Homo sapiens: one gene and its partner. The protein of the gene in region 1 purifies or fractionates together with the protein of each later gene. This does not show direct contact. Each region holds a gene or a part of one and is shown in the gene's direction. Other genes may lie near its edges.

Evidence for each region. Proteins that work in one complex are often made in the same cells at the same time.
Region 2: the proteins of SPATA6L (region 1) and ZBTB1 purify together in Homo sapiens (affinity purification with mass spectrometry; 2 studies listed by BioGRID and IntAct, with this or other methods). This does not show direct contact.

What each region holds. Positions count from the first base shown.
Region 1 is NC_000009.12:4,597,604-4,600,622, reverse strand, and holds the end of SPATA6L (spermatogenesis associated 6-like protein), read left to right. Parts: 3' UTR 1-2,307; downstream 2,308-3,019.
Region 2 is NC_000014.9:64,507,770-64,511,369, forward strand, and holds part of ZBTB1 (zinc finger and BTB domain-containing protein 1), read left to right. Parts: intron 1-3,479; exon of another isoform or gene 3,480-3,600.

The sequences.
Region 1 (3,019 bases):
TTGGGGGCTAACATTTTCTTGTCAAGCTGGAAAATTTGTGTTTTTGCATGTTTGTTTTGAACATGAAAGAGAAAGCGCTGTAGTTGGGTGGCAGGTGCTTATCTGAACACTTCCCCTCTCTCTCTCTCTGGCTCTCTCTGGCTCTCTCTGTCTCTCTCTCTCAAATTAATTATATATGAGCTAGAGGAAGTTGCTATTCACAGGAATAACCTGATAAATCCTCCAGGAAAGACTATCAACCTGACTTTCTCTTTTCGGTAGATCCGTTTTTGTTGTTGTTTGTTTATTTCTTAGTGTTAGGCTTGATTTACGTGAAGTCCACTAAAAACCTTGGAAAAGAGAGCATTACGTCTGGGTAGTTCAGATCTTGTTTTAGATGTTGAATGTCTGTGATAAATTTGTAAGAGGAGGCTGGCTCCTCTGGAGCGTAGTTTAAACTGCTCCTTCTGTTTCCTACTCCTTCGTTCCAGCAATTCTTTGTAAATTTAGATGAGGAACAAAACCTTCCTCAAATATTTCTCCAAAAGAACTACACATTAAGTAAATAGGTTCTACAGATAGGACTGCCAATGCCAGGTTTTAAAGTTAGTTAGGAAGGTGCATCTATGAAATGCTTACACAGTGTGAGGGAGCAGGAATAGGAAGGGGCTGGGATAAAGGGAGACTAGAGGCACATTTGTCTTCATTGATACAGACCCAGAGAAGAGGGGCCTGAAAATGGAAACTTATTTCCCTCCTTCATAGTGTAAGCATAGCATTTTCCTCTACCAGCCCTACTATAGTGTGAATGTTTGTGTCCCCTCAACATTTGTATGTTGAAATCCTAACCTCTAAGGAAATGGGGCCTTTTGGGAGGTGATGAGGTTGTGAGGGTGGACCCCTCATAAATGAGATTAGTGCCCTATAAATAGGCTCAAGGGAGCTCGTTTGCCCCTTCCACTGGCGAGGAGACAGCGAGAAGGCGCCATCTCTGACCCAGGAAGAGGGCCCTCACCAGATTCTGCATCTGCCAACATTCTGATCTTGGACTTCCCAGCTTCCAGAACTGTGAGAAATGAATTCCTGTAGTTTGTAAGCTACCCAGTTTATGACATTTTGTTATAGCAGCCTGAATAGAGTAAGACACTACCCTAAAACTTGTTCAGTTTTTAGAAGATTCAGTGAGAGCCAAGTTTTCTTTTCTCACTGTAATCATAGGGATTGGTTCATTAGGTAAATTAAGAAAATGAAATTAAAAATTAAAACAGAAAAGGAACTCCAAAAACAAAAACAACAAAACAAAATTCATTTATCCTCTTCTTAGAATTTCAGCCAAATAAAGGTATATCCAAGTTGAACCTCCCAATCTAAAAATCTGAAATCTGAAATGCTCCAAAATCCAAAACTTTTTGAGCACCAATATAACACCATAAGTGAAAAATTCCACATCTGACTGCATGTGGCAGGGTGCAGTCAAATGCATTCGAAACTTTGTTTCATGCTCCAAATTATTTAAAATCATGTATAAAATTACCTTCAGGCTACCTGTATAAAGTGTATATAAAACGTAAATGAATTTCGTGTTTAGACTTGGGTCCTATCCCCTATCCTGAAGATACTTCATTGTGTTTATGTAAATATTCCAAAATACAAAAACAAAAACCAAAACCCAAGTTTAAAATACTTCTGGTCAGTCCCAAGCACTGAAGATAAGGGAGACTCAACCTGTATCACAACCAGCATTCCACCTTGGCAAGGCCAACAGCAAGCTTAAATTACATATGCTAATATGTTCTCAGTCTCTCTGAAACTATGGTTGTCAATTTGTTGTTTTGATGTTACCTCTAAGTAGTCATCAAAAGTAAGAAAATATTGTGTTACATTAAGGTTACGCTATAAGTCTCAGGAGAGGGCTGCTTACGTAAGCAGCTAAAGGAAAGCAGCACTAATGAATTGGTATCCCATTTCAGTTATTGTTAAAATATACACCATGACATTCAATATTCAGTGTTTTTTGAAATGGTTTAAGCATAACTCTTTAATAAGATCTTAAATGCCCATTCTTATTTAAAGTCATTTTTGGTTTTCACACTAAATTACGCTTTTTTTCCCTTTACTTTTGCATCTATTAACTCTATTCCTTAAATTATTATTATTTTTACTTTTGTTTCTCAAGGAGTTATCTCAATTTTGAGGAATCATGCTGGGGCAAGGATTGCAGTTGAAGTATTTTGCTTTTGGAGTGTATAATAGTATGAATAATTTTGTGATGTTTTGGGGTTTGGATTACTTTGGGAAGATCTGTGTCATTAAACATCATAAAAAGAATTCCCATCTGTCTTGCTTCAGTTTATAATTCCTTTCTTGATTTTTATGGTTGCAGATCTGTCAAAGCCTGGAGCATATTTTATGGGCATGTTTCATGGGGTCTTGGTTTGCAGAGGCTCCTAAGAAAATCTCCTTTGTGGAACCTAGGCCCTCCAAACAAAAGCTGCTGTACAATGAGGCCAGTTCTCTGTGGTCACCTGACTGACCCAAAGTTAGCTGAAGCCTGTAGGCCATGAATTATAAAAGAGATTTTTAAAAAATGAGAGTGCAAATGATATGTTTGACATAAAAGAGGTGGCGGGTTTTAGGTGTAATTTGAGAAGACTGATGGGTATGTGTGTGAGTTCAGCCCTAGCACCCAAATGCCAGGCTACTCTCAGTATAGCCAGTACTCCCCTGAGTTGGTCCATCAAAGGAGCCCGCTGGGCTCTCTGGAGGGCAGCCTGAGGAACAGGATATGCTCTGTAGTCCATGCTGTGACCAGAGAACCCACTAGTACCACCGGATGGGACTGCTGTCTTTCTCTGGTTAGGGGACCCCTCCTAGCACTACTTAGCGGACCTGCAGGTCTTAGGGAGACCTCTTCTCTCTTCCCTTGTGCTGGGAACCCTGCCAACAGTGATGAGAGCCCCAACCCTTTGCTCCTTTGGCCTGGGAGCCCCATCCTCCACACTGAATCTAGGGGCACCAAATTATGGCAATGAAGTTACTT
Region 2 (3,600 bases), on another chromosome or scaffold:
TGCCCAGCCTCTGATGGATTGATTTACAGCAGCCAAACACATGAAAACAAAAGCAAACCCTCACCTTTATAGAGAGTTTCATAATTTATAATTAGGAAGGAGTGGGTATACTTGCCATGAAGACCACTGCCAATATATCCCTGTGCTGATATGGGATGGGGTTCCTCTTGATCAGCACCAAAGATTGCATGCTGAACATATGGAAAGGAAATTGGACGAAAGAAGGGTCAATGACCGCTGTTTTCAGATGTGGCATGGAAGAGACTGATACTGGGGAGGAAGCGGCAGGGTCTCACTCCTTAGCCATGTGTATTTAAGAAGAATGAACTGTGAAGAAGTTGATGATGATCTAAAAACAGAGCCCCAAAATAGTACATAGAAAGTTAATTACAACATTGGTTATTTGAGAGTGTTGGGGACGTGGGTGGTTTTTATACTACTCTGTCTTTGAATTTAAAATAGTTTTCAAAATAAAATTTGAAGATTAAAGAATTAACCAGATTTTCTTTTGTCTATATGAGATGCATGCAGTCGTTTTTAGAGATGAGTTCCATCCCCACTTTGAATCTGAAGTATTAGAAGAGGCATGCTCTGGTGGACAGTGGGGAGTTAGCAGATGGAAGGGGATTTAGGGAAGGGACTGGACATTCTTCCTGCAAGATGGAGCAGTAAGAGAATGATGAGAGCTTTTAGATTCATGAAAAAGGTGACTCTAGGAGGCTTAGAATGTTCCAAAGGGGCACTTCAGCTAATAGTCATATTCAGAAGAGTGTTGTCTGGTTTACACAAACTGAAACTTAGGGCTTTGAATCAAGAGTCTCAGCTTCTACTTACAAGATAAGCAGTTTTGGGGAAGTCAGCCACTGAACCTGTTTCTTCATTTGCAAAATGAGGATAATAAAAATACCTATCTCAGGGTGGTTGTGAGATCAGTTGTATAATGTATGGGAAAATGCTTTAAATTTTAATTTTAATTTTAATTTCCAACCACTATATAAAAGTTGCCATGATTGAAATAAACAAAAAATTGATAAGCAAAATAAAACTTACCTGTTTAAACATTTATTCATTCAAAAACTCATCAAGTATCAACTAAATGTCAGACATTCAGTAATGACTGAGATACTGCCCTGATGTCAAGGAGCTTGCAGTAAAGCAGGGGAGCCAAATAATTGCAATATCTGCCTTAAGTGTGGTAACAGAGCATCACAGTTGGGATGATGCATTATTGGTACCATATTGTTGTATGTATAGGCTGTTTTGGCAGCACAGAAGAGGCATCTGCCTCACCCTAAGATCAGAAAAAACTTCCCAAAGAGGCCAGGCACAATGTCTCTCACCTGTAATCCCAGCACCTTGGGAGGCCTAGGCAGGCGGATTGTTTGATCTCAGGAGTTTGAGACCAGCCTGGCCAACATGGCGAAACCCTGTCTCTACAAACAATACAAAAGTTAGCTGGGCGTGGTGCCGCATGCCTGTAGTCCCAGCTATTCGAGAGACTGAGGTGGGAGGAACGCTTGAGCCTGGAAGGGCGGAGGTTGCAGTGAGCCGAAATTGCCCCATTGCACTCCAGCCTGGATGACAGAGCCAGACCCTGTCTCAAAAAAAAGAAAAGAAAAAAGAAGTCCCAAACAGAGTGAGCTAGACATTGAAAAGGTTCTAAGCAAAGGAACAGCATGTGTGAAATGGCAAGGCTTTTGGTGTGTTAGGTTATTTGGGATCGGGGGAATCTTAAAGCTTAAAAATGGAGTTAAGTTTCTTAGAATGAACATGCATTTTATGATTTTTTAAAATTGGTTTCATTTTGTTGAATTTCAATTATATGATTGTGATGTTTTCAGGATTTTGGTTTGAATTAAACAAAACTGGAGCCACAAAATTGGAAACAATACAATTTTTTTTAAAATGTGTAGGATCTGGCCGGGTGTGTGGTGGCTCACGCTTGTAATCCCAGCACTTTGGGAGGCCAAGGCAGGCGGATCACGAGGTCAGGAGATTGAGACCATCCTGGCTAACATGGTGAAACCCCGTCTCTACTAAAAATACAAAAAAAAAAAATTGGCCGGGCGTGGTGGTGGGCGCCTGTAGTCCCAGCTACTCTGGAGGCTGAGGCAGGAGAATGGCGTGAACCTGGGAGGCGGAGCTTGCAGTGAGCCGAGATTGTGCCACTGCACTCCAGCCTGGGTGACAGAGCGAGACTCCGTCTCAATTAAAAAAAAAAAAAAAAGTGTAGGATCTGCTCAAAGAAGGAAACTGGGTAATCCCTCCCATCATCATAGAGCTGTCTCACCAGTTATTCATTCAGTAACACTTACTGAATACTTAATATTCCAGAGAAATGAAAAAGCCAAAGTCCTCGCCTTAAAGTTGCTCACAATCTCATGGGGGAGACCAACACATAATTATAACCAATTCTTATTTAGCACTTACTCCATGAGAGATATACTTAACAATAATTCTTCAGAGGTAGAAAGGATTACCATCCCTTCTTAGAGAATTGAAGCACAAATTGACTAAGCAACCTTCTCAAGGTCACACACTTAATAAGTGGCAGAGCCAGAATTTAAACCCAGGCAGTCTGGTTAGTTTGTGCTTTAACACCTACTTTATGTAGCTGTTCTGATTATTAAAATACAGTGTAAAAAGTGCAAAATAAAGAGGTAATACACAATGAGATCAAAACCTAAAATAGTGGGAGAGGAAGGTGTTACAGAGGCTTTCTGCAGGAGGTGATAAACTGATTTTTAAATGATATCTGGGAGGTTCAGACCCAAAGAACCAATCGGCATGAGTAAAACTGCAGGGGAAGTAAGAAATTTATGAAGTATACTGGATGTGTGTGGAGGAGGGTGAAGGTGGTGATGAGCAGTTTTATGTTGCTTGAACATGAAGTTTGAAGCAGGCAGTAACTAAACATGTAAGACTAGATGGGTGGGCATGGAGGGCTTTGTATGCCTCAATAATGATTTTATACTTTAGTCTGAAGATATGTGAGGGGAACCATGGTAGAATAGTGTGATATGATTTTTCTTCTTCATGAATCATCTTCAAAACAGCATTGCTCTGGGAAGAAAAAGATTACCTGAGAGTGAAGGATTTGAGAGACTGGTTGAGCCTATTTTAATAACTCAGGAGTGATAACAGAGGCCTTGCAAGAGCAGGAAAGGTAGGGATGGAGTAGATGGGCAGATTTGAGAAATATTTAATGGGAAAATTGGCAACACTTAATGGTTGATTATGAGGGAGAAGTTATAGGTAGCTCCCAAGTAGTCTAGGTGATTGGTACATAGTGGTGGCAGCTGAGACAAAATACAGGGAGGGGCATTTTTAAGTGGGTTCCAGACAAAATCTGAGTCCACAGAATTAGTACTTTGAAATAGAAGTCCTACAAAACGAACCCTAAGAATATGAATGCCATGTGCAATAAGGGATTTCCTGGTGAAGCGTTTTTAGCTGAGAAAAGCCTACTGTTTACACAGTGCCCTCTGGTGGTCAGAAGATGCTGTGCTGTCTCGTTAGGATGAATGGATTAAAATGTACTTTTCCTCCTCTGCTTCTGGAGAGGGAGAGAGGAATATTCCAGAAGCCACTGTGTTCCTT